Linked DNA regions of Homo sapiens. The protein of the gene in region 1 purifies or fractionates together with the protein of each later gene. This does not show direct contact. Each region holds a gene or a part of one and is shown in the gene's direction. Other genes may lie near its edges.

Region 1 (4,193 bases):
ATGAGATATCCAGTTATCAATTTAAGTACAGTAAGGAGTATCTCAAGTGAATACTTCAAAGTCAAGTAGATCTGAATATAAATTCTAGCACTTTCCAGCCCTATGGTCTTGACCCAACTATGCAACCTCTCTGAACCTTGTTTCCTCATCTTTAGAATGTAAATGACAGTGAGGTGCAGTGGCTCATGCCTGTAGTCCCAACTGCTCAGGAGGCTAAGGCGGGAGGATCACTTGAGTCCTGGAGTTGGAGGTTACAGTGAGCTATGATTGTGCCACTGCACTCCAGCCTGGGCAATAGAGTGAGAAACCCTGCCTCTAAAAAATAAATAAGCTAGGTGAGGTGACTCACACCTGTAATCCCAACACTTTGGGGGGCTGAGGTGGGAGGATTGCTTGAGCCCAGGAGTTTGAGGCCAGCCTGGGCAACACAGCAAAACCCCATCTGTACAAAAAATTTAAAAATTAGCCAAGTGTGGTGGTGCACATCTATAGTCCCAGTTGCTTGGGAGGCTAAGTGGGGAGGATCGCTTGAGCCCAGAAGTTCAATGTTGCAGTAAGCTATGATCATGCAGCTGCACTCTAGCCTGGGTGACAGAGCAAGACCTTGACTCAAAAATAAGAAAATAAATAAATAAATAGATAAATAAATGACAAAGCAAGGCTGCCTGGCAAAGTTGTTGCAAGGATGGCAGTAAGTGGCTCTGTAGGCACATAACAGTTGCCAAAGGAGGTGGGGATAAGGTCAGAAGGCTTCCTGGAGGAGGTGAGATGGAGCTGGATTTGAACAGGGAGTCATGGATGGGATTTCTGGTGGAAAGAGAGCCCTGAGAGAGAGGCACAGTAAGAGCAAAGGTACAGAGTAGAAGGGAACATGGGCTGGATTTGCACAGGAGAGCCTGGAAGCCTGGCCAGGGAGTGTGGATGCTGTCTCTGGGGCAGAGCCTCTGGAGATGTCTGAGTCACAAAGGGACCCAGAACCCTGGAGTGATGAAGTCCAGGCAGTGCCACGGTCTCCCTGGCACTCCACTCGGGTGGAGGGTGGATGGAAGGGTGACAGGGTGTTCTAAGAGTTGAGGCCAGCGGAGAGGAGGGTCCAAACCAAGGCACGACAGGGAGGGGAGGCAGGGGATAGACTGGGCTCCACAGGGCAGAAGCCCATTTGTGAAATCAAAAGCAGCCCACTGAGGGATGCAAGGCCCATCACCCTTCCCTCCCCTAAGGGCACTGTGGACTGGGAGGGGGCCAGAGACCCTCCAGGCAGAGCTCCTGGCCCCCAACCCAGCAGCCCGGCTCTCCCTTCCAGCTCTGGGGCGCTGCTTTCCATGGACCAACGTTACTCCACCGGCGCTCCCAGGGATCACCAATGACACCACCATACAGCAGGGGATCAGGTAGGCACCTCCCTCCCCCACATCCTGGCCACACCCCTTCCACCCACAGCCCCATCTGACTCTGTCTCCCCAACAGCGGTCTTATTGACAGCCTCAATGCCCGAGACATCAGTGTTAAGATCTTTGAAGATTTTGCCCAGTCCTGGTATTGGATTCTTGTGTGAGTCACCAGATTCCCCTCCTCTTGTGTCCTTGCCTTCTTCCTCCCTGATCCTCTACCCCCTCGCCCAATGTCTGAAACACAGGCTTTGGACAGAGGAGGAGGAGCCAGAGCTCCGAATGGATTCCAAGACCAACAGGATTTATAAGGGAAAGAGGCCTAATCTGGGGACATTGGGTGGTGTGTGGAAAGGCAGGGAGGGCCTCTGTAAGGGGAAAGATTTGAGGGGCTAGGGCTGAACCTCACTGTCCTCACCCTGCCTACAGTGCCCTGGGGGTGGCTCTGGTCTTGAGCCTACTGTTTATCTTGCTTCTGCGCCTGGTGGCTGGGCCCCTGGTGCTGGTGCTGATCCTGGGAGTGCTGGGCGTGCTGGCATACGGCATCTACTACTGCTGGGAGGAGTACCGAGTGCTGCGGGACAAGGGCGCCTCCATCTCCCAGCTGGGTTTCACCACCAACCTCAGTGCCTACCAGAGCGTGCAGGAGACCTGGCTGGCCGCCCGTGAGTGTCCTGCCCACCCCCAAGCCACCAGCTGCCCAAGGACCGCCCTGGGCCATGCCCGGCCCCAGCCCTGGCCCTGACCTAGGTCTGTCTGCCCCGTCCTCTGCAGTGATCGTGTTGGCGGTGCTTGAAGCCATCCTGCTGCTGATGCTCATCTTCCTGCGGCAGCGGATTCGTATTGCCATCGCCCTCCTGAAGGAGGCCAGCAAGTTAGGGCCTGCCTGGGAGGGAGATGGGGTTGAGGACAGCGTGGACCCAGGAGTGCTAGGGGACCTAGGGGGTGCTAGAGAGGTGGCAGGGAGCCTCAGAGGAGAAGGGAGGAATATAGCACAGTGGTGAACACTGCTGTGGCTTTGCTTCCCCATCTGTAAAATGGGGGTAACAATAATTCCTGCCTTCTAGGGTTGTCTTGAGGATTCAATGAGTGCCTGGAATATGACATAGGCCTTCTAGAGGGGTTGGTGGGAGTGGTGGTGGCTGAGTGGAACGGCAGGAATCCGGGCCAGGAGGGGCAGCAGCTTGCTCCCGATCAGGAACTGCCACACACACCTGCCAAGGGATCACGCTTGGGGGTGATCTTCCCTTACTCCACCCGAAGCTGCCCCAGGTGGCTTCTCTGTGACCCCAGTTTCCTCTAAGGGTCCTGTGAGCCTGATTTATTCAGTTCTGTTTATCCAGTGAGCACCTACAGTATGCCTAGCCCTGCACCAGGCCCTGAGGACACAGATATGAAAGACAATGTCACTAACCCTGTTGGTCCCACCCTGGGGGAGTGGGGCAGGCCCCAGTGAGGGCAGAGGGGTCAGCCCCCCCCTTTTTTTTTTTTTGAGACGGAGTCTCGCTCTGTCGACCAGGCTGGAGTGCAGTGGTGCGATGTCAGCTCACTGCAAACTCCGCCTCCCGGGTTCACGCCATTCTCCTGCCTCAGCCTCCGGAGTAGCTGGCACTACAGGCGCCCGCCACCATGCCCGGCTAATTTTTTGTATTTTTAGTAGAGATGGGGTTTCACCGTGTTAGCCAGCATGGTCTCGATCTCCTGACCTCGTGATCCGCCCGCCTCAGCCTCCCAAAGTGCTGGGATTACAGGCGTGAGCCACTGCGCCCGGCCGGGGTCAGCCCCTTGAGAAGATGGACAGCTGGGGCGGTGCCGGTTAACAGCTTTGTCTCCCTGCAGGGCTGTGGGACAGATGATGTCTACCATGTTCTACCCACTGGTCACCTTTGTCCTCCTCCTCATCTGCATTGCCTACTGGGCCATGACTGCTCTGTATCCTCTGCCCACGCAGCCAGCCACTCTTGGAGTCCTGGGGGGTGATGGAAAACAAAGCAATACTTGCCCTGTAGAGTGCCTTGGTGTCACTGGAAGAGGTGCCCCTTTCTCTGGGCAGACACACCAGCACTGTGCCTGAACAGAGTTGAAAGGGTGCACACAGGCTGAATTTCAGCCCTCTCTGTGCAGCAAACGATCTGCACAAGCACCTAGGAACAGGTCCCTAAGGAGCGAGTGACCTGTGGAGACCTCGTGTGATCATGCTTTCCTTGACTCCCCTCTGGGTACCTGGCTACATCGGGGCAACCCCAGTATGTGCTCTGGGCATCCAACATCAGCTCCCCCGGCTGTGAGAAAGTGCCAATAAATACATCATGCAACCCCACGGTAAGAGGAAGCAGGGGACATGGAGGCGGGACTAGTAGGGGTGAGGGGCTGTAGGGGCCACATTCCTCATTGTGCAGAGAAGACTGAGGCCACAGAGGGCAAGAAACTTGTGCAAGGTCACACACTCAACCCCCAGCAGAGCTAGAAGAAACCAGTTCCCAGAATACCTGGTACTCCTGTTGAGCCATCCATCATGTGGGGAGGGAAACTGAGGCTGGGAGAGACAGCCCTGGATACCAGGACTTACTCCACCCCTCCCCAGGACATTGCTCTGACTTGAGGACCATCAACCACTTCACCCTCTGAGTCTCAGCCTACTCCTGTTTGTTTGTTTGTTTGTTTGTTTGTTTGTTTGTTTTGAGACAGGGTCTTGCTCTGTTGCCCAGGCTGGAGTGCAGCAGTGCAATCTCAGCTCACTGCAACCTCCATCCCCCAGGCTCAAGCAATCTTCCCACCTCAGCCTCCTGAGCAGCTGGAACTACT
Region 2 (4,193 bases), on another chromosome or scaffold:
GTTAGCCAGGATGGCCTCAATCTCCTGACCTCGTGATCCACCCGCCTCAGCCTCCCAAAGTTGTTTTGTTTTTATAGAGCTACAATAATCCCTTTTCTTTATTTTCCATTTCTTCCTACTTTTTTCTTTCCCTCTCTCGTATATTCTTAAGTGTATATACAGTATCTTTTTTCATCTCTCTTGTCACTCTCTACGTACTGCTCTTGATGAACAAAGAGATGTCAAAAAGAATGTGAATGGTATAAGAATTATAGGTATTTATATACTGTAAAATGAAAGTAATTATGTTACCTGTCCCAGGTACCCAGAAAAAATTCAGGCCTCACTTCATCGAGCACACTGCTTCCTTCCAGCTGGCATTGTGGCAGTGCTAAAGCAGCGCCCCAGATTGGTGGCTGCAGCAGTCCAGGCATTTTACCTACGAGACCCTATTGACCTGCGAGCTTGTCGTGTTTTCAAGACATTCTTGCCTGAAACACGAATAATGACATCGGTGAGATTTCTATCTTGGTCATTTAGTTTCTCTTACTGGAAACCGAGTTGAAACATTATTATTTTTTTCTTTTTACATTTCTCAGTGCTCAGTGAATGAAACATTATTTTAATTGTTCTCTAGAAAAAAAAGGAAATATTCTGTTTCTTCATAGCATGTTAATATAGATTGAATATTCCTTATCTGAAATGCTTGGGACTAGAAGTATTTCAGATTTCAGATTTATTTGGATTTTGGAATATTTGCATTAAACTTACTACTTGAGCATCCCAAATCTGAAAATTCTGAAATCTCAAAACTTTGAGCATATCGTTGGGACTCAAAAAGTTTTGGATTTTGGAACATTTTAGATTTCAGATATTTACATTTGGGATGCTCAAACTATACACGTTTTTTCTTTTCTTGCACCCAGTGAAGGAAATTTTCAAGAGACCTGCCTCCCCATTTTATACTCAATGTTTTATAGCTATTTTTGACCATATGTTTCTATTTCTATAATTATTTCCTTTTTTTTTTTTTTTTTTTTTTTTGAGACAGAGTCTCACTCTCTCACCCAGGCTGGAGTGTAGTGGAGCCATCTCAGCTCACTGCAACCTCTGCTTCCTGGGCTCAAGCGATTCTCCTGCCTCCCGAGTAGCTGGGATTACAGTCACCTCCCAACACGCCCAGCTGATTTTTTTATTTTTAGATGGTGTTTCGCCATGTTGGCCAGACTGGTCTCGAACTCCTGACCTCAAGTGATTCACCCACCTCAGCCTCCCAAAGTGCTGGGATTACAGGTGTGAGCCACCGCACCCAGCCTAATTATTTCCTTCTTAACAATAAAACATTTCATCTCTTCCAGAGAATTAAGAATTATTCTTGGCCGGGCATGGTGGCTCACACCTGTAATCCCAGCACTTTGGGTGGCCAAGGCAGGTGGATCACTTGAACCCACGTGTTTGAGACCAGACTGGGCAACATGGTGAACCCCATCGCTACAAAAAATAAAAAAATTAGCTAGGTGTGGTGGTGGGCGCCTGTAATCCCCGCTACTTCGGAGGCTGAGGTAGGAGGATTGCTTGACCCCAGGAGGTTTGGGAGGCCAAGGTGGGCAGATCACCTGAGGTCAGGAGTTTGAGACCAGCCTGGCCAGCATGGTGAAACCCTATCCCTGAGGCTTCAGTGAGCCATGATTGCTCACTGCACTCCAGTCTCTGCAACAGAGCAAGACCCTGTCTCAGAAATAGAAAAAATGAATTATCTTTATCTTCCAGCCATTTAATTGCTGTATAATGTAACTAATGATAAGAATTTTACTAGCGATTACTAAAAAGTAGGCAGTAGGGTAAAATTTTTTTTGCAACAGTGTCTTGCTCTGTTGCCCAGGCCGGAGTGCAGTGGAGCAATCTCAGCTCACTGCAACTTCCTCCACCTCCCGGGTTCAAGCAATTCTCCTGCTTCAGCCTCCCGAGTAGCTGGGATTAGAGGCGTGCGCCACCATGCCTGGCTTATTTTTGTATTTTTAGTAGAGATGGGGTTTCACCATGTTGGCCAGGCTGGTCTCAAACTCCTGACCTCAGATGATCTGCCCACCTTGGCCTCCCAAAGTGTTGGGATTACAGGCATGAACCACCATGCCTGGCCAGCAGTAGGGTAAATTTTATGGTATGTGAGTTGTATCTCAATAAAGCTGTTACTAAAAACAAGTAGGCAATGAATAGGTTGAATCTTCTTTGCATTTCATATGAATATGAAGCTTATAAATGGACTTCTCATTATATTTAACTGTGAAGTGTTATTCACAATCTTAATTTCAGGAAAAGACTCATGTATTTTGTGTCTTGATGCCCAGGTCACATTCACTAAATGTCTATATGCACAATTGGTGCAACAAAGGTTTGTGCCAGACCGGCGGAGTGGATACAGGCTGCCTCCTCCATCTGATCCCCAGTACCGAGCCCATGAATTGGGCATGAAATTGGTAATGTTGAACCAGAAAATGTTGTTTCCTTTCTTTATGTAAATGGACTCTTAATAGAATAGTGGCACAATATACAAAGTCCAGAAATACACCCTGTTTATGTAAGAATGCAGTAAAATGTGGCATTTCAAATTAGAATGAAAAAAATGGATTACTTAGTAAGTGATGATGGGACAAGTCTGAAGTCATCTGAAAAATTGAAGTTGATTCCCTAATACCTATACCAAAATAAATTCCAATTGGATCAAATATTTGAACATAAAAATTGAAACTATACAATTTGAAAAAAAACCAAGAACCTTTTATAATTTGAATAGGAAAGGCCTTTCTATGCATGACTTGAAACCAGAAGCTATAAAGGGAAGACTGATGAATTTGATTATGCAAAAATTAAGCATTTCTGCACGGGAAAGAAAAACTCCATAAATAAAGTCAAAAGCAAATCTGGAAAAAGTGTTATATTTGCAATCTAAATGAAAAAGAGCTGACTTCTCTAATACATAAAGTGTTCCTTTAAGTCAATATGAAAATGATAATACTAGCCAATTAATTTTAAAATGTTCAGAACTATGAACATAGTCCACAGAAAAGGAAATACAGGTGACCTTTAATTTAAACATATGAAAAATATTGAATCTTAACTCATAATAAAAGAAATGCACTTTAAAGCTACAAAATAGTGTTTTTCTTTTTTTTTTGTTTGCTTTCAAAAATGTTACAATCTAGACATTGATAGGAATGTCTAGATTTTCTTTTTTTTTTTATTATTATGCTTTAAGTTTTAGGGTACATGTGCACAACGTGCAGGTTTGTTACATACGTATACACGCGCCATGTTGGTGTGCTGCACCCATTAACTCGTCATTTATATTAGATATATCTCCTAATGCTGTCCCTCCCCCCTCCCCCCACCCCACAACAGGCCCCGGTGTGTGATGTTCGCCTTCCTGTGTCCGTGTGTTCTCATTGTTCAATTCCCCACCTATGAGTGAGAACATGCGGTGTTTGGTTTTTTGTCCTTGCAATAGTTTGCTGAGAGTGATGGTTTCCAGCTTCATCCATGTCCCTACAAAGGACATGAACTCATCATTTTTTATGGCTGCATAGTATTCCATGGTGTATATGTGCCACATTTTCTTAATCCAGTCTATCATTGTTGGACATTTGGGTTGGTTCCAAGTCTTTGCTATTGTGAATAGTGCCACAGTGAACATACGTGTGCATGTGTCTTTATAGCAGCATGATTTATAATCCTTTGGGCATATACCCAGTAATGGGATGGCTGGGTCAAATGGTATTTCTAGTTCTAGATCCCTGAGGAATCGCCACACTGACTTCCACAATGGTTGAACTAGTTTACAGTCCCACCAACAGTGTAAAAGTGTTCCTATTTCTCCACATCCTCTCCAGCACCTGTTGTTCTCTGACTTTTTAATGATCGCCATTCTAACTGGTGTGAGATTACCATCTCATTGTGGTTTTGATTTGCATTTCTCTGATGGCGAGTGATGATGAGCATTTTTTCATGTGTCTTTTGGCTGCATAAATGTCTTCTTTTGAGAAGTGTCTGTTCATGTCCTTTGCCCACTTGTTGATGGGGTTGTTTGTTTTTTTCTTGTAAATTTGTTTAAGTTCTTTGTAGATTCTGGATATTAGCCCTTTGTTAGATAAGTAGATTGCAAAAATTTTCTCCCATTCTGTAGGTTGCCTGTTCACCCTGATGGTAGTTTCTTTTGC
Region 3 (4,193 bases), on another chromosome or scaffold:
TGAATTTCCTGGCATCTGCCTTTTCCCCAGGCCACCAAGTTCCCTAGCTTTTTCACCTGTACTGAGGCATTCCAGTCCAAACTCCAATTCATGTGTGCCCGAACCCTCATGTGGTTTCTGGGTCCTGAATAGATGCATATCTGAAGTTGGTATACTTAGGTACCTGATTTTCTCTCCAGTACGAAAGACAAATTTCTAATAGACATTTACTCTTGGCTGTATTTCAAAGCCAGGGACGCATTTTCTTATTTGGGCTTAAAACCCCACCCTATGATACTGAAGTTAGGAAAAAGGAAAGAGACTCAGCCACCTGCCTGCAGATGCTCTCTGACTGATTCTTGGATGAACCTGCCTCTTATCTCTTCTAGTCCGATTCATAGTCCTGTCCAACAACTACCTGCAGATCCGGGGCATCAAGAAAACAGATGAGGGCACTTATCGCTGTGAGGGCAGAATCCTGGCACGGGGGGAGATCAACTTCAAGGACATTCAGGTCATTGTGAATGGTGAGGAGAGTCCGTTCTTCCTGATCTCTGCATTGCTACAACCTTGGTTCTCCAAAATCATTCTCTTTAACTTCCTCTTGGGTCTGTAAATTAAATCCTGTCCTGACTCAATCATCCGTCTGAGCTAAATCCCCTCCCCACCGTAACATCTAGATTTCTTTTTTTTTTTTTTTTTAATATACTTGCCTGTTGGATCTTCCTTCAACTACGAGGGATTTTAGTGCAGCAACTGAATGTCCTTCACCGTTCTGCAGCACTAAAAACTTTCCCCCTGCTTACCTATTAATCCTCATTGTCCTTGATGTTACCATAATTGTGAAGTTATTCCGCTGCTTAAATGTTCAAAGAAAGTATTAAGTCAACTCAGGCCTCAGAATAGTCAGAATCATGGTCCATAGGCTTGTTAATCTTAACTTGCAGTGTCAAATAAACACACCCATGGAATTGATCTGACATTTACAAGATGTTTACAGGAAATTATAATGTCAGTACTAAGAAAATAAGTAAATCAGGGTTGAATTGTTTTGACTATTGACACATATTTTTTTTGCCAAACTCTCCCCATCTCATTCCTTTGGTAAAAAACAGTTTTGTACAAGGTTGTTTATCACAGTCCCAGAGAAATGGCACTCTTTGTTATAGCTGATGCATTCGAATTGGTGTTAACCATTTAACCACTGGGAGCAGTAATGTCCAACTTTTTCCAGTACAAAGAGCTCCTTTTTAACATCAAGTTTCACTGAACCTGGTAGTTATTAAGTTTAGTATGCATTGACTGAGAAAATACATAATGAAGAATAGTGACTATAAATTGAATACCATCTTAACATGCATAAAATGTATTACTATAGCTTCTCAATTAATGAAAAACAAAAATGCATGTTTGTAGAACTGTCTATTCAGTTTGCAGAAGTTATTTAGTACATACATGAATTTCAATTCCTGACACTAACTCTGTAGCTGCACACGACGTTTGTCCCACAGGCTGAGAACTCCTGACCTGGAGTGGTGTCTCTTCTCCAGGCCATTGGGTTCTTCCAAATTTTCACAACCACCCCATGACACCCTTTTTTCCTTCAGTGCCACCTACCATCCAGGCCAGGCAGAATATTGTGAATGCCACCGCCAACCTCGGCCAGTCCGTCACCCTGGTGTGCGATGCCGAAGGCTTCCCAGAGCCCACCATGAGCTGGACAAAGTAAGAAACTGGCTCATACCTTTTATCATGGACTAGAGGAGAATGGGGCATCACAAAGTCTGCTCCATGTTAGTGTCTGCGTGGAATGGATGTGGGCTTCTTAGGAATATTAACCCCAGGAGAAGAATGGACTCTTTTCTATAAGATTCTCTTGCTTGTGCATTGATTATTCCTTCAATTTCAGCCTTGTGGGGGCAGAGTCAGAGCCAGAGGGTGTGGTCTTGGGAGCCCACTTTGAAACATTTGTGGGTACAGTTGCAGCCCTTGGATAGTCAGAGGATGGAATAGAGGAATAAGAGGTGTATGTGGACGTTCAACTTGGTGCCTTAACTTTTTGTGAAGACTGAGGAGTCTTTCCCATTGACTCAGTCTGCATTCTATGGAACCTAATTAAAAATAAACGTCTTATTTCTGTGGTCGAAATCATGCTACTTTGCATTTCTACATGCTCTAGGGATGGGGAACAGATAGAGCAAGAGGAAGACGATGAGAAGTACATCTTCAGCGACGATAGTTCCCAGCTGACCATCAAAAAGGTGGATAAGAACGACGAGGCTGAGTACATCTGCATTGCTGAGAACAAGGCTGGCGAGCAGGATGCGACCATCCACCTCAAAGTCTTTGGTAGGGGCAGTGGGGGCCCAGGTCACTGCTCTGCCACAATTCCCCTTCCTCTGCACATTCAGTCCATCAGTAAGACCCTGGCCACTGTCCCTCAGAACATAACCCAATGCAACCATTTCTTGCCAGTTCCACCACCTAGTCCAAGCCCTAGTCCAAGCCACCATCATCCTCACCTGAGCAGTGGGACGGTCTCATAGCTGGCCTCCCCGACTCTCCCTATTGGTCCACTTCATTCACTTCTGCTCACAGTAGTCAGAATGACCTAAGTACCACTCATCTGTTTGAAAGCCTCCAGTGGCTCCCTATGGCAACCAGAATAAAATTCAGACTCCCTGCAATGGCCTACAAGACCAGAGATGAACTAGCTCCTGCCTTCTTCTCCAGCCTCATCTTTCTTTCGCTTTGCTGCACATGCAAAGTTCTCCAACCACACAGGCCTTCTTCATGTCCCTCAGACATACCAAGCTTGTTCTTCATCTCAGGATCACTGCCCTAGGTTTCTCTTCTGCTTGGAATATCTTTCCCTCTGATCCACTCTGAGCTGCCTTCTTCTGATCCACCATTCAGATCTTAACTCAAACTCACCTTCTCAGCGGCGCCTTCCTTCACTGCCCTGGCTAATTCAACTCCCTCTGCACTGCGACCACCCCCACCCACCTCCACTCATCTCTCTCTCGTGACTCTTACTGTATCTTCTTTGCTGTACTTAACAGTACCTGAACAGATGTCATTTGCATATTTGTTTTGGGGATTGTCTGTCTCCTACCTCTACTAGTGTGTAAACTTCAAGATAGCATAACCCTGGCTGTCATACACGGCGTTATCCCTGTGACTCCAAACAGTGCCAGACTTGGCATAGGCCCTTGGTAACTTTAGTGGTCGATGGGCTGGCTGCTTTGCCTTGTTTGCCTCCTTCCCTGACCTGTGCAAAACAGTGTCATGGAAGAGCCCCCACATCCCTGCTCACTTCATCTTCATAAACTCAGGAAACTTCCATTCATTTCAGAACTGAAAAGCATTTTGACCTGATCTTGAAAAAAGAATTGGTTGCAGAGAAACGTTTAACCTAATGGCCCTCAAGTCTCTCCGCGTGTCTGTTTAGAAAACACAGATAAACTGGTCTACTGTAGACAGCACTGGGGAAGTGCCAGTCTGAGGCGCAGCTCTGGTGCATGGAGCCCCCAGGTCATTAAAATGTGCACCTGGGAATCAGGGTTGGGACCTGCTTATCCAGCCTGATAAGGAGAACTGTTCATAAACACAGACCTTTGAAAATCAAGACTTTATATGCAAATGTCCTGCTAGTTATTCAGTAGTAAACAGCTGGGTTTAGAAACAGGCTATCAGTTAGGTTCAAGTTAACCGTACGTATTTGAGAGAGAAAGCTAAACTTCATGAAAAATATTCTTGAAAGTCTTTTCTTGAATTCAGACTGATCTTCCCCAATCACTATGGTTTTAGTAAGTTTTTCCATATTGTAGAAAAAGATAGATGCATTTGTTAATTAATCCCTTCATTTAATAAATACGTATGGATCACCATTGTTGCTGGACAGAGGGGCTACAGAGATGAATAGGATATGATCCCTTGACCCTGGGAAGCACAAAGAGGGAGATAAATGGATAAACATAAATGTTATAATAGTGTCAGTCAGCAACATTTGAGTGACTGCTGTGGACTCAGTCATTGCCAAGTTTACAAGATGAATAACATGGACTCTGTTCTCATCAGTAGATTCACAAGCTAATGTAGATAGTCAACGCTGGAATTTGAAATGACAACACATTATTATGGCTGCAAAATAGCAATATGCACAGTGTTTTATAGGAAACAAGTTCTCTGGTCCTGTGTGATGTAAGTTAGAG
Region 4 (4,193 bases), on another chromosome or scaffold:
ACCACTGCACTCCAGCCTGGGTGACAGAGCAAGACTCCATCTCAGAAAAAAAAAAAAAAATGAAATGGAAAGTAAGAAGGCAGAGAGTCCCCATTTTTCATGGCTTTGATTCTCTAGAACCTCACATTTCAACACGGCTCTTGGTGGAGCTTTATTTATTTATTTGTTTTTGAGACAGAGTTTCGCTCTTGTTGCCCAGGCTGGAGTACAATGGCGCGGTCTCACCTTACTGCAACCTCCGCCTCCCAGGTTCAAGCAATTCTCCTGCCTCAGCCTCCTGAGTAGCTGGGATTACAGGCATGCGCCACCACACCCAGCTAATTTTGTATTTTTAGTAGAGATGGGGTTTCTCCATGTTGGTCAGGCTGATCTCAAACTCCCAACCTCAGGTGATCCACCAATCTTGGCCTCCCAAAGTGCTGGGATTACAGGTGTGAGCCACTGCGCCTGGCCTATTTTTTTTTTTTTTTTAAAGAAAATTCAAGGGAAGATTGTCCAGTACTCTCGTATTAGACACTTAGAATGGAAAAAGCAGAGGTGAAGATTTGGAGTTGGTAAGACTGTCACTTTCTGAGTTATGTCGTGAGTTCCTACAGAGGGCCTTTGGATAGGAAATCTGTTTGAGCTACTCTGCGTCAGCACTTTGAGCTTGCTGGTATATGTATATATTGATGGCTGGTGTAGATATATTGCCATCTAATGCTCAGAACACACTTGTATTGCAAGAAAATATTTTTTTGCTTGTTTTTTTGAGACATAGTCTTGCTCTGTTGCCCAGGCTGGAGTGCAGTGGTGATCTTGGCTCACTACAACCTCCGTCTCCCGAGTTCAAGTGATTCTGGAGCCTCCCAAGTAGCTGGGACTACAGGTGCATGCCACCATGCCCAGCTAATTTTTGTATTTTTAGCAGAGATGGGGTTTCACTATATTGGCCAGGCTGGTCTCAAACTCCTGACCTCGTGATCCACCCACCTTGGCCTCCCAAAGTGCAGAGATTACAGGCATGAGCCACTGCACCTGGCCTCAAGAAAAATTATATATCACGTGGAATAGGATAGTAGTCTCTGCACTGATTTTCGTTGATAATGGCTGTTCTTCTTATCACCATTTTGCTATTTCTTTGTCTGGGCTATTACAGGGTTATTACAGAAATTTCCAGAAAGACCCCTGCCTGTCGAATGTTTACTTCAAGCTTGAGCTCCTGGTATATTATGAGGAAATTATATGATACCCCAGGAGAGGTCTTCCTTTCCCATGCCATTGTAAAATTCCTAAAGTAAAATTAATTTGCCTTCTTGTCAAAGAAGGAGCCAATGTTGTTTTAAAATTTTAGCTTGAGAGATAGGTGGGGAAGAAATTAAATAGACAAGTAATCACTATTCAGAAGAGAAGGGAGAGTCATTGTACGAGGCCCAAGATACTTGCCCAAAAATATCGCAGAGAAAAACTAGTCTTTGGGGTCCTATTTTTTGAGTGGAACATTTGAGTTATTTAAAATTAGAATTTTATTTTGGTCAGATTAGAATTTCTAGGGTATGTCATATGTGTTTTTAAATTGAAAGCTCTTAAAACTCCTATTGTAGTTTAATGTCATTATCCATTAATTTACATAAATCTGATTTGGATCTCTATTTTCATCGTAGACTGTGTAGGGGCAATTTTTCCTAAAGGTTCTGTGACATAGTGCTACCTTTTTTTTAAAACCTGTCTTGCCCAGGCATTATTGAGTGCCCCCTGGTGCCAGCATGTGTATTTCACGACTGTATCAACAAATCATGATCATCTTCTCTGGCCATTGTGCCCTTTCAGATTCCAAACTTGTTACCTCTCAGTCCTTCCTACAAACTTAGAAAGTCTAATATCTTAATGTTTACTTATGTAGCAACCTCCCTTTCTCCCATCCCTAAATCCTCTTGTAATTAATTATTTTCCTTTGGAACTTTTTAAATCTACAATTTCCTTATAATATGGTAACCAATATTAATTTTCTTGTTCTGCGCCAAGTTTGATTTTATACAAATTGTTTCCAGTTTGGGTCATGAGCACAAAACCAGGTATTTTTAAAAATCTATATAACCCTTCAATGAGGCAGTATTAATTTTATTAACTCATTAATTCAACCAATAATTCTTGATTGTTTACTGTGTTAGATATTGGGGTATCCCCAATACCTGACAGCTGTGAGCAAAACAAATGCCCTACACACATGAGGTGTACAGTCCAGTAGAAAAGATAAACAATAAGCAAATTAATAGATAATATGATGTCCAATAAGGACTTCAAAGGAAAATAAAGCAGAGTAAAGAGCCAGAGAATGACAGTGAGCTGTTTTTCACATGAGTCATCAGAAAAGGCCTCTTTAAAGAATTGACATTTGAACAGAAAAACGAATCAAGGGCGTCAACTGTTTATTGCTTTTATTGCTTACCATTTGACCAAGCAATTCTACACATAGGATTCACCCTAAAAAAAAAAAAAAAAAAAAAAAAAAGGATTGTATATAGTGTTTAAACACTGAACAGCCTAAAATGTCAAAAATAAAGGGTTGGGCAAATAAGTTATATATACTATAACTATTTTTTTGTTGAAAGAGTTTCATCAACAGAAGGATAGGGAACACTGCATTTATTGTGATCACTCCCTATTTAATGTTTGTTTTTACATGTTTATAAATGCATAGGAAAAAATCCAGAAGGAATATCAGAAGTAATTTTCTGTGTGTTGGGGAGATGAAGATCACTTTGGTTTTTTTTTCCTCTTTGCTATCTGTATTTTGACGCTTTCTGCATCAAACGTGGATTGTTTATACACTTTAATCAAAAGCAACAGCTCTGACAACCCAGGTTATGCATTAGCTACAATCCTGTATGGATTATTCTTTTATTCTAATGGGCCAAGAAAATGATGGATATACTTTTGCAGCCCAATTGCAGAGGTTACACATCGATACTGAGAATCTCCGGGAGGAGAAGGACAGTGAAATCACAAGTACTAGAGATGAATTGCTTAGTGCCCGAGATGAAATTTTGCTCCTTCATCAAGCAGCAGCAAAGGTTGCCTCTGAGCGGGACACTGACATTGCTTCTTTACAAGAAGAGCTTAAGAAGGTGAGAGCTGAGCTTGAGCGGTGGCGGAAAGCAGCGTCTGAATATGAGAAAGAAATCACAAGTCTGCAAAACAGTTTTCAGCTTAGATGTCAACAGTGTGAGGACCAGCAGAGAGAAGAAGCAACAAGGTTGCAAGGTGAATAAATGTATTTTACATAAAGCTGTTAACTTTTGACAATGATAACTTCTTAACTTGTTTAAAAAAGAAACATGCAGGCTTTTTTTTTCTTTGTTAGCTATCAGTTGTATAAACCAATGTTTTTAAATCGGAGCTAAAAATGTATTTTCAGGTCTGCAAGTTCTACTTAAATTTATATTTTTTTACGGTTTTATATTTTATTTTAAAATTGTTAAAAATTGCTTGTCTTATAAAAGTGAAGTGGAAAAAAATACTATTGTTCAAGTACAAGCTGATAGCAGTCCTTGAGGTATACATGCAAAGTAACAGGAATCATATAATTAACCATGTAAAATCTACTTGCTTTTAAGGGGGCAAAAAGTATGTTCTCCTCTGAAATCTTTTCCTTTATCCTTTGAAGTATTATGGAAGTTATATTTCTGTATTAACAAATATGTTTTGGGACTATTTTAGGTGAACTAGAGAAGTTGAGAAAGGAATGGAATGCATTGGAAACCGAATGCCATTCTCTAAAAAGGGAAAATGTTTTGCTATCATCAGAACTGCAACGGCAAGAAAAAGAATTGCACAAGTATGCAAGAACTCTCTGTTTTTCAGATATAAAATATTTCTTTATCTTAAATTTTCATCTAAATTAAATTTAATTTTAATACTTAAATATTTTACAGGAGCAAATGTTCAGCCCATCTCTGTTTGGCTATTTGGCAGGTTAACCATACTGAATAAATACTTCAGCTTTTTTTTTTCCTGCCACCACCATTATCCTACATGTCCTTTCCTTGTACTCATGGAATACAGATTCATTAAATGTCCCAAAGAAACCCTGAACAAACAACAAAAGTCTGTAATTCATAGTTGAACTTGCCCTGTAAACTAATAAATTTCAAATATCAACTGCTTTTCTTTCACACCAGTGATCTCTTCTTTTAGTAAACGTGATCAGGAAG
Region 5 (4,193 bases), on another chromosome or scaffold:
GGCTCTCCCTTCCCTGGACAGTCTCTGTCAGGTGTGGACACGATTGGGGCATGTCCCCCTGGAATTTTCTCCAAGTCAACCCTTGAGTGTTGGTTTCTCCCCCTGGACACAGGAGGAAGATCCCCAATGATTTAATAATCATAGAAATGATGAGGATTGGCCAGGTGGCTCAAGCCTGTAGTCCCAGCAATTTGAGAGGCCGAGGCAGGTGGATCACTTGAGGTTAGAATTTGAGACCAGCCTGGCCAACATGGTTAAACTCCGTCTCTACTAAAAATACAAAAATTGCTGGTCATGGTGGTGGATGCCTGTAATCCCGGCTACTCGGGAGGCTGAGGCAGGAGAATTGCTTGAACCTAGGAGGCAGAGGTTACAGTGAGCTGAAGTCATGCCACTGCTCTCTAGCCTGGGCAACAGAGTGAGACTCCATCTCAAAAAAAAAAAAAAAATGAGGATGACGTTTCTGCTAATAAGCAGTAGGCCCTGGGCCAAGAAGTGGTGAGGCTTTTCTTCCTTCTTTAGGGAAGTGACATCACTCACCAGCATCCCTTAGCTTGTAGGATTCAGAGCCAAGATTGCCCCCAGAGCCCCCGCTGTTGGCCAGGTCTCTTTCCCCTTTCCCTGTCTCTCCCTGGCCCCAGGGGACAGGATAGAGACTTGAGGGAGGGCAGACTGAGTTTTCCTTCATAGCATAAGGAAGAGCTGAAAAGTCCCCGGGCTCAGTGGCTCACGCCTGTCATCCCAGCACTTTGGGAGACTGAGGTGGGCAGATCACGAGGCCAGGAGATTGAGACCAGCCTGGGCAACATGGTGACACCCTGTCTCTACTAAAAATACAAAATTAGCCGGGCGTGGTGGTACACGCCTGTAGTCCCAGCTACCCAGGAGGCTGAGGTGGGAGAATAGCTGGAACCTGGGAGTCGGAGGTTGCAGTGAGCCAAGATCACACCACTGCACTGCAGCTTGGATGACAGAGCGAGACTCTGTCTCAAAAAAAAAAAAAAAAAAAAAAAAAAAAGAAAAGAAAAAAGAAAAATACTTAGCTTCTTTTCGGGCCAGGTGCGGCAGCTCACACCTGTAATCCCAGCACTTTGGGAGGCCAAGGTGGGCAGATCACGAGATCAGGAGATTGAGACAATCCTGGCTAACACAGTGAAACCCTGTCTTTACTAAAAATACAAAAAATTAGCAGAGCCTGGTGGCACACGCCTGTAATCCCAGCTACTTGAGAGGCTGAGGCAGGAGAATTGCTTGAACCCAGGAGGCGGAGGTTGCAGTGAGCCGAGATTGTGCCACTGCACTCCAGCCTGGGTGACAGAGCGAGACTCTGTCTCCAGAAAAAAAACAGAAACGTCCCCAGGCCAGGGCAGAGGTTGGGAGATGGAGCGTGGGCACGCACAAGCCCCTTCCTCCCCGGCAGCATTTGGGACAACATGGCAGGGGGCCTGTGGCCAACTGGGCCTCTGCGAGAGGAAGTGAGGCCAACTCCTGGCTGGGGATTCACAGCCTCAAAGTGTTTCTCATCTTGGTTTCTCATGTTGGTGGCTTCAGGCCTTTTTTGGAACCGTCTGCTGCCTCTTTATAGTCATGTATTCAACTGGTCATCACCGAGCCTGTGCAGGCGCCCCATGTGTATTCAAACAGGCCCTGCCCCTACCCGCATTTCCGCACAGAGTTTGCAGACTGGTTGCAGGGACAGACAGCAGGCAGGTAAACCACTGGCTAAGTGGTTTTGGATAGTGGTGAAATGTTGTGAAGGAAACAAGCTGGCAGGAGAATGACTGCATAGGCTCATTCAGTGGGGTGGCCAGGGAAGCCCTGTGGAAGAAGGACATTCTGCCAGGGACTTGAATGCCACGGAGGAGCCAGGCCACGAAGATTGTGTCAGGGCATGGGTTCCTGGGACACGGGGCAGCACGCCTGAAGGCCCCGGGTTGGCATGTTTGAGAAGTGGAAGGTGGTGAGGGTTGAGAGGTCACCGGGGCTACGGTGAGTGTCTGGGGTTCCAAAGCTGCGGGATGCCATGATCAGTCACTTGTTTTTATTTATTTGTTTGTTTGTTTTCTTTTTCTTTTTGAAACGGAGTTTCGCTCTTGTTGCCCAGGCTGGAGTGCAACAGTGCGATCTCAGCTTCCTGTAACCTCCACCTCCCTAGTTCAAGCGATTCTCCTGCCTCAGCCTTCCGAGTAGCTGGGATTACAGGCACCCGCCACCACATCCGGCTGATTTTTGTATTTTTATTAGAGACGGGGGGTTTCACCATGCTGGCCAGGCTGGTCTCTAACTCCTGACCTCAGGGGATCTGCCCGCCCCAGCCTCCCAAAGTGCTGGGATTACAGTGCCCTACTGAGCTGGGGTTTCTGCCTGGGGCATTTGGTGATGGTGGCGTCCCCATGATCATGAGGAACTGGGATTCGTTGAGATTTGGGGAGGCAGTTCTGGCATTCCAGGTCACATTGATCTCAGCAGGTGAGTGCAAGGTGGATGCCAGGAGACCGTGAGCCGTTGCTGGTGGGCAGGGGTCCGGGCTCTGGAGGCTGCAGGTGCCAGCAGGTCTCACGTCCCCTCCTTTCCCACCTCCCAACCACAGTGATCAACAAATACAAGCGCAGACGATTTCAGAAAACCAAGAACCTGCTGACAGGAGAGACAGAAGCGGACCCAGAAATGATCAAGGTAAATGGGCAGGGTTGTCAGGGCCTATAGGGACCAAGCCAGGCCATTCACAGCTCATCCCAGACCACTGGGGCTGTCATCTGTCACCACCACTGAACCACCATGCCGGCTCGGTCATGCCACCTCCCCTCCCTGAGCACTGGGCTCCTCCTCTGGGAAATGGGGTCAGGAGGCAGCTGTCTCTCAGGGAGTGAGGAGGATCCCAGACAAGGTTACCTGAGCCTCTTGCCAGCCTGGGAGGGGTCTACATCACAGTCCCATTGTCACATGAGGACACTTGCTCAGTCTCAGCCGGAAGTGGCAGGCCAGGGACTCTCACCCACACAGCCAGGCCCCAGAGCCCAAGCTCAGCCTGGCTCCAAGCACACACACGAGAATATGGCTTTAGTAGGAACTGCAGGATTCATAGTTGCTGTCACTCCCAGTGGGCTGGGGAGCCGGGCAGTTAATCTGTGGTTAACCTGCAGTGGGCACTAAGAGACTTCCTCTCTCTGCGGGTGGTCCTGTGTTGGGGGGGTGGTCCCTGCTCATGGAGCTGAGGCCACCGTGCAAGAGTGTGTGGAGCCTGCTGTCATGAGGCTGGGCTTCGCAGCCTGGCCTAGGATGCCAGCCCTGCCTCTACCTCTACCTCGGTTTTCTACATGTGGGGTGGGAGGATCCTGTCGGTGGCCGGAAGGGTCCTGGGTGGCGGAATCTCTAAGCCTAGGGAGGAGAGCCTTCTGCCAGCAGTTGCTGTGGTGGCTGATATTCTGCTGCCAGGGTTGTCAGGGGAGATGGCTCATGCCTGTTTTCCCAGCATTTTGGGAGGCCGAAGCAGAAGGATCACTTGAGCCCGGAAGTTCAAGATCAGCCCAGGCAGCATAGTGAGACCCCATCTCTTCCAAAAAAGAGAAAAAAGAAAGAAAGAAAAGAAGCTGTCCATGGTGGCTCACGCCTCTAATCCCAGCACTTTGGGAGGCCGAGGTGGGAGGATCGTGCTTGAGCCCAGAATTCGAGACCAGCTTGGGCAGCATAGTGAGACCCCATCTCAGAAAAAAAAGAAAGCAAAGATTAAGATTTTCTCGGGAACCCTGGGGAGGAAGTGTACAGAGAGTGATAGTCCCCGAGCACTTCCACCTGCCTCTGAGGTCCTTCCCCCCATGTTGCCTCAGAGGGCTGAGGACTATGGGCCTGTGGAGGTGATCTCCCATTGGCACCCCAACATCACCATCAACATCGTGGACGACCACACGCCGTGGGTGAAGGGCAGTGTGCCCCCTCCCCTGGATCAATGTAAGCTCCCCAGCCCTGCCAGCTGCCTGCAGAGCCTTTGAGAGGGTGCTCGGGGTCCATCTCCTTGTCTTCTCCTGGCCCTGTCCCCCTGAGAGAGCTTTCCAGGGCTCCACCCTCCCAAGCTCCCACCCTGTCCTATCCCCTTCCCATGTCCTCTCCCTCTCCCACACCACCACCCCTGGGGACCCCAGGACTGACTTCTACACGCCAGCATCGGTCCGCAATCAAGTGCCATCCAGCCCACA
Region 6 (4,193 bases), on another chromosome or scaffold:
CATGCAGTATTTCTGATTTTGTGACCTACATATGTTTCAGCTGGTTTTTAGTATACTGGGAATTAAGTAGCCAGATTTGAGTGGGTTACAGAACGCCTCTTTTCCAGCTTTTACACTAAGCCACAATGACTATTTTTCTCTTTACAAAATATGGTATTGAACATCATTTACCATTCTTTCTTCCTTTTAAGTTATTGATGAGACAGAGGAATAACTGTTTATTGAATTATAGTTTATGAAGGAATTGCTATTATATATTATGTGGAAAACAAAACCTGTGGAGTCTTTGGCTGCCTCGCAAAATACCACAGGGGATAGCTTTGGCCTTGACGGCAAACTGTATAATACTTGGTGAGGTAGATTAGGCCAAACCATAACAGCTTTTTCCACAGTTGGTTTTAGTTTTGAATGGATTGTCATATATATAGATAATTTTATGTTAGTATATACAAGTGTAAGAAATTTCCCTACTGAAAAAGGAGCAAATCAAGCAATATTTCAGGAGTAAATCATCTAGTGGCATCTATATTAATATTAAGGAAACACATAGCTTACTCTAAAAACAACTCTCACATTTCATTCTACAACCATTTGAGCACTGATTTAGCCAGATACTTTCCTAGGTGCTAGGTATTCAACACTGAACAAGACAGACATTCACCTCAGGTACAGAGAATCATAGTTGGGATGAGGGTGGATAAAAAACACAACAACATATTTTACAAAGATGGGATAGCTCTGGGGTTATGGACCTGCTCTTCTAGATGGAGGGAGTAGGAGACATTTCTCTGAAGGGACGCCTCTAGGTGAGATCTGAATGATAGAAGGAACTAGCTTAGGCAAAGAGCAGAGGGAAGATTATTCCCAGGAATGGGTATGGCATATGCATAAGCCCCAGTTTGGAAAGGAGCTTGGTGTACTTAAGGAGCAGAATGGTGACCAGGGTCAAGCATAGTGAAAGGGAATGTAGGATGAGCTGAGTAAGAGGGGCAGGCTGAAGCCAGGTCATGCAGGGCCTGTGGCCACAGGAAAGAAGTTGGAAGTGATCAGCACACACAAGGAGAAGGTGACCCTTAGGAGAGGAGATTGGAGAGGGCAAGAATGGATGAAGTGAGTTGAGGCTTAGAGTGGTAGCTTGTGTCAGGTGGCAGCAGTGGGGATGTGGGGATGGAGAGGCTGAGTGGATTTTAAATATGTTATGAAGGTAGGCTTGGCCAAGGTGAAGGAGAAGAAGGATTCATTAATAAAAACTTACAAGTTTCTGGTTTGAGTACATGATGGATCTTGGTACTTGTTATTGCCTTGGGCAAGAGAAAATTAAGGATTCTGTATAAATCTTGTTGGGTTTGAGATGCAGACTTTGTAGAACTGTCACAGTGGATGCTGTATTAGTCCATTCTTGCATTGCTATAAAGGAATACTTGAGACTGGGTAATTTATAAAGAAAAGATGTTTAATTGGCTCATGGTTCTACAGGCTGTACAGGAAGGATGATGCTGGCATCTGCTTGGCTTCTGGGGAGGCTTCAGGAAACTTATAATCATGGTGGAAGGCGAAGGGGAAGCACATAACATCACATGGCCAGAGTAGGAGCAAGAGAGAAGGATGGAGGTGCCACACACTGTTAAACAACCAAATCTCCTGAGAGATCACTCATTATCAAGAGAATAGCACCAAGTGGATGGTGCTAAACTATTCATGAGAATCCGCCCCCATGATCCACTCTCTTTCCACCAGACCCCACCTCCAGCATTAGGGATTACAATTTGTTAGGAATAATGCTTACAATTTTAAGAAATTGAACACTTGAACAAAGGATATTTAGCAAAGCAATTTTATTTTTGCGCAGAGAGGTGCCTTTTTGGCCAGTCGCCATGAGAGCACACTTGAACAAAGGAGTACGAGAGCCTTTATTTTTGACGCAAGTCTTGCCCCTGTATCCTTTTTTTATTGGCTGGGGTCAGGTGTATAAACTAATTTTAGTTGGCTAAACATTTGAATTTTTTTAGATAAGGTGGGCACATAGAAGAAAGAGGAAAGGGGAAAGGGTGTCTGTAGTGAGTCAGAAAGTTGTTTTTTTTTTTTTAAATAAGGAAAGGAATGTGAGTTGGTACTGATAATGGCTGGTATTGTGGCATGCCTGCGCATTTAACAAAGGCAGAAAGGAAAAAGGAAAAAAAGAGGGGGTGGTTAACTCTGAATTAAAAGATTGATTAGGCTATTTGAAGGGAAACCTTATCATATCTCACAAATTGAACATACGATTTGGGTGGGGATACAGATTCAAAGCATATCAGATGCATGGAAATGGGTCCCCATGAAGAATTCAGGAACACAAAAAAACCTACAGACAATGTTGAGGTGAGGGGAACACCTAGAAAGAAGGAAAAAGAGAAGAGTACTTGGGGATGAGTCATGGGCCACCCCCAAATTAAGAAACTGTGTTGAGAAGTCAGCCAAAGGAAACTGAAAATGAGTACCAGAGAGGCAACATGAAAACCAAGGTCTGCCATTTTCCAGAAGCCAAATGAGTGTTCAAGAAGAAGGGCGTAGTCTCTTGTATCCCATGTTACTAAGAGGCGAAGGGAGATCAGGTCTGAGACATGGACATTGAATGAAACATGGTGAGGTCATCATGGCCTTGACAATCTGTTCCTGTAGTGGTGAGGGTGGAAGCCAGATTTTAATCGATTAAAGGTACAGTAGAGAAGAAACAGCATGTGTAGAGTAATCTGGAGAAATTTATCTGTGAAGCTGGAGGGTCATGTGAGGTCCAGGGATACTCTTTTTAAAGGGTAAAAGAGAGTAGAGCATGTTCATATGCCAGTGAGACTGTTCTAGGAGAGAGAGAGAAGTTGCTCGTGCAGGAAGGGAGGATGAGAGAAAGAACCAAGTCCTAATAAGACAAAATGGATAGGATCCAAGGCACAAGTGGAGGAATTGGACTGTGATAAGAGAGTTAGACTTTTCCTGTCATAACAAGAGAAGGTGGATGCAGGTGGACACCAGGCTCAGATTTGGTAGTGGGAAGATGAGAGAAAGCACATGGTGGCTTCTGATTTCACAGTGACATATGAGGAGTGCTTGTTAGCTGAGTACATGGGGATGGGAAGATGTGTACGTTTTGAAGAGAAGGAAAAGGAAATGAGCTATTTTCTTAGAGCTTAGAAAGTGCTGGACAGTATTACGTGTCCACTTAGGTTTGGGACTATGAAGCAGAAAGAACTGTCATCTGGTTATGTGATGTTTTTTCCCTGGAGACATTCAGCTGCTCAGTGTTGAGATTTTTGCCGGGTAGGCACAATGAAAGGAGAAAGGGCCAAGGAGTTGGAATAGATTTACAGCAGAGTGATTCAAATGATAGCCACTGAATCTAAGCTCTGTAAGAACAGATATGAATCTGGGAGAGGGGGCAATATTTAGCAAGAAGTGGAGGGAAATAGACCAGTCCTCCTGACCTGATTTTCATTTTTTTTTTATAGTATATATGATCACTGTTTCTTCTCTTTATTTTTTTTTAAGGATGTCTGGAATGGCTGGTCTTTTTAGCATCTCTGGCAAGATATGGGTAAGTAATCTTAAATAAAACGTTTATATTTGCAGAGAGGTTAAGAATAAAAATACAGCTTTTAAGCAATAGGAAAACAAACATTTATAAGTACATTTATAATTTCACTTTTTTTCTTAAGCCATGCAACTACTCTCATGTGGGGTTTCCAGTGGTAATGTCGTCATGTAGAAGGGCATAATCTGAACAGTAACCTGTAACTACTGTGTCGAGGTCTTATTTTCTTAAATCAGTGGTGAAGTCTTTCATCCAAGCAAAACGGCTTATGTGATTTTACTTTATCTTATGTATTTCTTTGTAGGCATATCTCCCTACAAAGGAAAGATTGTCTAAGACTGAAAGTAGTTCTGTATGTCAGGGATTAACAAACTCTAGCCTGTGGATGGGCTACCTGTTTTTGTAAATAAAATTTTACTGGAAGACAGCTACATTTATTCATTACCTATTGTCTATGACTGCTTTCATGCTACAATGGTACAGTTGAATAGTTGTGACAGACACAGAGAATTGTGGTTCACAAGCCTGTAATATTTACAATCTGGCCTTTAAGTAGTAGACCCCTGCTATATGTGATCGTATAATTTCTCTGAGTCATTTCAGTGGGTTAGAACTGTTATTCAGGTTT
Region 7 (4,193 bases), on another chromosome or scaffold:
CTGGGTTCAAGCGATTCTCCTGCCTCAGCCTCTGGAGTAGCTGGGATTACAGGCGCCTGCCACCACGCCTGGCTAATTCTTTTGTATTTTTAGGAGAGACGGAGTTTCACTATGTTGGCCAGGCTGGTCTCGAACTCCTGGCTTCATGATCGCCTGCCTTGGCCTCCCAAAGTGCTGGGATTACAGGCGTGAGCCACCGTGCCCGGCAGTTCATTCCTTTTTATTGCTGAATACTGTTCTGTTGTTGGATACATCATTATTCGCCAGTTAATAGATATTTGAGTTGTTTCTAGTTTTTGGCTGTTATTGTATGAGTTTTTTTGTGGACATATGATTTTATTTTGGATAAATTCCTAGCTGTGGATTTGCTGGGTCAATAGGGTATTTGTATGTTTAACTTTATGGGATACTTGGCCAGACTGACTTCCAAAGTACTTTTATACTCACATCAACAGTGTATTAGAATTTTCGTTATTCCATATCCTCACCAACATTTTATGTTGTCAGTTTTTAAAGTTTTAGGCATTCTACTGGGTTTATAGTAGTATTTCTTTGTTAATAGTACTTCATAGTGGTTGTAAAGATTAAATAGGTTTTAATTGTCTTTTCCCTCATAACTAATGCTATTAAGGATTGTTTTTTTAATGTGGTTATCGACTATCTCCTTTTGGACTCATGTATTCACATCTTTTGCCCATTTTAAAATTAGGTTATTTGTCTTTTTGTTATTAGTTGTAGGTGTTATTTACCTACATATTCTGGATGAGTCCTTTATGCAGATTACATGTTTTGTGCACATTTTTCTCTCAGTTTGTGGTTTGCCTGTTCATATTCTCAACTTTTTTTGTATAACTGGAAGTTTTTAGTTTTAATCATGTCCAGTTTATTAATTTTAAAAATTTCTATTAGTGTTTTCTGGTTCATGCCTAATATCTTTGTCTACCCCAAGGAGATCATGAAGCTCTCCTAATGTTTTCTTCTGGAAGGTTTTTAGTTTTAGCTTATTAAAATTATGTCCATGATCCATCTCATGTTATTTTTCATGTCCAATATGAGGAAAGGGATTAAGGTTTGTTGTTCCATGTGGATATCCACTTGTTTCAGTATAATTTGTGTGAATGCCTTGGTGCGTTTTTAACAAAAAAATATTGAACTTACACGTGTGGATCTACATCTGGACTTTTCTCATTCATTGTCTGTTTTTCTGTCAATATCGTACTGTCTGGATTAGTGTAACTTTCTATTGATTCCTGGTAGTGTGAGTCCCACATCTTTATTTTTTAAAGATTGTTTCGATTATTCTTGACCTTATTTCTGTATACATTTTGGAATCAGGTGGTTAATTTCTATTTAAAAAGTTCTGACTAATCTTAAGATTACATTGAATCTAAAATTGAATGTGGGGAGAATTGCTATCTTAATAACATTGAGCCTTCCAGTATATGAACATGATGTATTTCTGTATTCTAGAAATGTTTCAGGTTTTCAGTCTTGCATGTATTTTGTTAAATTTATCTGAGTAAATCTACATCTTTTGATTTTTGATGCTCTTAAAAATGGTATACTTTTTTATTTATTTATTTTTGTATGTGTGACATGTTCTCACTTTGTCACCGAGGATGGAGTGCAGTAGCGTGATCTCCACTCACTGCAACCTCTGCCTCCGAGCTCAAGTGATCCTCTTACCACAGCTTCCCGAGTAGCTGGGACTCCGCATACACCACCATGCCTGGCTAATTTTTGTATTTTTTGTAGAGACAGGGTTTCGCCTTGTTACCCAGACTGGTCTTGAACTTCTGGGTTCGAGTGATCTGCCCACCTAGGCCTCCCAAAGTGCTATTACAGATGTGAGCCACTGTGCCTGACCTAAAAATGATATACTTTAAACATTTTCTCTTCCAATTGCTTGTTTTATGTGTGTGCATGTGCATATGCATGGACACACAATGGCACAGTTTGTGTAATTGTTTTGTATTCTGCAACCTTGCTAAATTCACTTATTATTGTAGTTTTTTGTATTCTGGGCTTTTTCTGAGAGAGTGGCTCACTCCATTGCCAAGGCTGGAGTAGAGTGGCGTGATTGTGGCTCACTATAGCCTTGACTTCCCAGGCTCAAGCGAACCTCCCACCTCAGCCTCCTGAATAGCTGGGACTATAGGTGCGTGCCACCATGCTTGGCAAAATTTTTTTTTTTTTCTAGGGACAGGGCCTCACTATATTGCCCATGCTGGTCTTGAACTCCTGGGCTCAAGCAATCCTCTTGCCTCAGCTTCCCAAAGTGCTAGGGTTGCAGACATAAGCCACCACACCCAGCTATAGGATTTTTTTTTTTAGATGTAGATTATTTCAGATTTCCTGCACACAAACATTACCTGTTAATGAAGAAAGTCACAGTTTTTCTTTGCCTTATACAGTTGTCCATTGGTATCTTCAGGGATTTGGTTCCACGATCCCCCGTGAATACCAAAATCTGCCGATGATCCGGTCCATTATACAAAATGCCATAGTGTGGCTGGGCATGGTGGCTCACATCTGTAATCTAGCACTTTGGGAGGTTGAGGCAGGCAGATTGCTTGAGCCCAGGAGTTTGAGACCAGCCTGAGCAACATGGCAGAACCCCATCTCTACAAAAAATACAAGAATTAGCCAGGCATGATGGTGTGCATCTGTAGTTGCTACTCAGGAGGCTGAGGTGGGAGGATCTGCCTGAGCCCAAGAGTTCTAGGCTGCAGTGAGCTGTGATTGTGCCACTGCACTCCAGTGTGAGTGACAGAGTGAGACCCTGTCTTGATAGATAGATAGCCATATAGCCGGGCATGGTGGCTCACGCCTGTAATACCAGCACTTTGGGAGGCTGAGGCAAGAGTTCGAGAAGACAAGCCTGGTCAACATGGTGAAATTCCGTCTCTACTAAAAATACAAAAATTAGCTGGGCGTGATGGCACACACCTGTAATCCCAGCTACTTGGGAGGCTGAGGCAGGAGAATTGCTTGAGCCCAGGAGGTGGAGGTTGCAGTGAGCCGAGATTGTGCCACTGCACTCCAGCCTGGGCGACAAAGCAAGACTGTGTCTCGGGGGGGAAAAACAGCCATATAGTACAGTCAGCTCTTTGTATCTGCAGATTCTGTGTTTGAGGATTCAGCCAATCTCATGTTGATCCGTAATTGGTTGAATCAGTGGATGTGGAACCTGCATATGTGGAGAGCCACTTGTGTTTCATTTTCTTGCCTTACTGCACTGGCCAGAACCTCTATTACAATGTCAAATGGAAGTGATAGAGTAGACATCCTTGCCTTATTCCCAATTGAAGAAGGAAAATTTTGAGCCTTTCACCATTCACTATGATGTTAGCTGTAGGTTTTTCATATGTGCCCTTTATCAGGTTGAGGAAGTTTCCTTCTATTCCTAGTTTGGTGAGAGTTTTTATTATGAAAGTGTTACCTTCTAATGCTTTTTCTTTATCAAGATAATCATAAGATTTTTCTCCTTTAATTCTGATAATGTGGTGAATTACATTGATGAGGTTTTAAGTGTTAAATTAGCCTTGCATGCCAGTATATTATCCTTTTTCTGCTTTGCTAGATTTGACTTGGCAATGTTTTGTTAAGACTCTTTGTTCATGACAGGTAATGGTTTCTTTTTTCATACGTCTTTGCTTGATTTTGGTATCAAGGTTTCCTGGCCTCATAAAATGAGTTGGGAACTGTTTCTTCTCTATCTTCTGGAAGAATTTGTATAAGACTGCATTATTCCTTTAAATGTTCAGTAGCATTCACCAGTGAAGTTTTATGTGCCTTGAGTTTTCTTTGTTGGAAGGTTTTTAACTATACATCTAATAAATAGATTTAATACTGTTCTGATCTTCTGTTTCTTCTTGTGTCAGTTTTGGTGATTTTTGTCTTTTAAAGTATTTCTCTATTTTATCTAACTTTCTTGGCAGAAAGTTGCTTACAGTATTCCCCTGTTACCATTTAAATGACTGTAGAGCGAGGTGCAGTGGCTCAGACATGTAATCCCAGATCTTTGGGAGGCCAAGGCAGAAGGATCGCTTGAGCCCAAGAGTTCAAGGCCAGCCTGGGCAATATAATGAGATCTCAACAATAAAATAAAATTTAAAAATTAGCCAAGCATGGTGGCATGCACCCATAGTCCTAGCTACTTGGGAGGCTGAGGTGGGAGGATCACTTGAGCC

What was found.
Region 2: the proteins of SLC44A4 (region 1) and ECD purify together in Homo sapiens (affinity purification with mass spectrometry; one large-scale study listed by BioGRID and IntAct). This does not show direct contact.
Region 3: the proteins of SLC44A4 (region 1) and NCAM1 purify together in Homo sapiens (affinity purification with mass spectrometry; one large-scale study listed by BioGRID and IntAct). This does not show direct contact.
Region 4: the proteins of SLC44A4 (region 1) and SLMAP purify together in Homo sapiens (affinity purification with mass spectrometry; one large-scale study listed by BioGRID and IntAct). This does not show direct contact.
Region 5: the proteins of SLC44A4 (region 1) and CLPTM1 purify together in Homo sapiens (affinity purification with mass spectrometry; one large-scale study listed by BioGRID and IntAct). This does not show direct contact.
Region 6: the proteins of SLC44A4 (region 1) and TMX4 purify together in Homo sapiens (affinity purification with mass spectrometry; one large-scale study listed by BioGRID and IntAct). This does not show direct contact.
Region 7: the proteins of SLC44A4 (region 1) and HAT1 purify together in Homo sapiens (affinity purification with mass spectrometry; one large-scale study listed by BioGRID and IntAct). This does not show direct contact.

What each region holds. Positions count from the first base shown.
Region 1 is NC_000006.12:31,868,672-31,872,864, reverse strand, and holds part of SLC44A4 (choline transporter-like protein 4), read left to right. Parts: intron 1-1,303; coding exon 1,304-1,391; intron 1,392-1,467; coding exon 1,468-1,551; intron 1,552-1,817; coding exon 1,818-2,053; intron 2,054-2,162; coding exon 2,163-2,262; intron 2,263-3,227; coding exon 3,228-3,320; intron 3,321-3,607; coding exon 3,608-3,710; intron 3,711-4,193. UniProt on the Homo sapiens protein: Choline transporter that plays a role in the choline-acetylcholine system and is required to the efferent innervation of hair cells in the olivocochlear bundle for the maintenance of physiological function of outer hair cells and the protection of hair cells from acoustic injury.
Region 2 is NC_000010.11:73,150,556-73,154,748, reverse strand, and holds part of ECD (protein ecdysoneless homolog), read left to right. Parts: intron 1-300; coding exon 301-493; intron 494-2,327; coding exon 2,328-2,456; intron 2,457-3,043; exon of another isoform or gene 3,044-4,193. UniProt on the Homo sapiens protein: Regulator of p53/TP53 stability and function. Inhibits MDM2-mediated degradation of p53/TP53 possibly by cooperating in part with TXNIP. May be involved transcriptional regulation. In vitro has intrinsic transactivation activity enhanced by EP300.
Region 3 is NC_000011.10:113,205,675-113,209,867, forward strand, and holds part of NCAM1 (neural cell adhesion molecule 1 isoform 2 precursor), read left to right. Parts: intron 1-368; coding exon 369-506; intron 507-1,586; coding exon 1,587-1,704; intron 1,705-2,158; coding exon 2,159-2,328; intron 2,329-4,193.
Region 4 is NC_000003.12:57,909,459-57,913,651, forward strand, and holds part of SLMAP (sarcolemmal membrane-associated protein), read left to right. Parts: intron 1-2,428; exon of another isoform or gene 2,429-2,463; intron 2,464-2,680; coding exon of another isoform or gene 2,681-2,733; exon of another isoform or gene 2,734-2,922; coding exon 2,923-3,243; intron 3,244-3,699; coding exon 3,700-3,817; coding exon of another isoform or gene 3,818-3,884; exon of another isoform or gene 3,885-4,154; intron 4,155-4,193. UniProt on the Homo sapiens protein: Associates with the striatin-interacting phosphatase and kinase (STRIPAK) core complex, forming the extended (SIKE1:SLMAP)STRIPAK complex.
Region 5 is NC_000019.10:44,982,628-44,986,820, forward strand, and holds part of CLPTM1 (putative lipid scramblase CLPTM1), read left to right. Parts: intron 1-2,590; coding exon 2,591-2,676; intron 2,677-3,827; coding exon 3,828-3,948; intron 3,949-4,193. UniProt on the Homo sapiens protein: Involved in GABAergic but not glutamatergic transmission. Binds and traps GABAA receptors in the endoplasmic reticulum (ER).
Region 6 is NC_000020.11:7,995,401-7,999,593, reverse strand, and holds part of TMX4 (thioredoxin-related transmembrane protein 4 precursor), read left to right. Parts: intron 1-3,522; coding exon 3,523-3,568; intron 3,569-4,193.
Region 7 is NC_000002.12:171,928,600-171,932,792, forward strand, and holds part of HAT1 (histone acetyltransferase type B catalytic subunit), read left to right. Parts: intron 1-4,193. UniProt on the Homo sapiens protein: Histone acetyltransferase that plays a role in different biological processes including cell cycle progression, glucose metabolism, histone production or DNA damage repair. Coordinates histone production and acetylation via H4 promoter binding.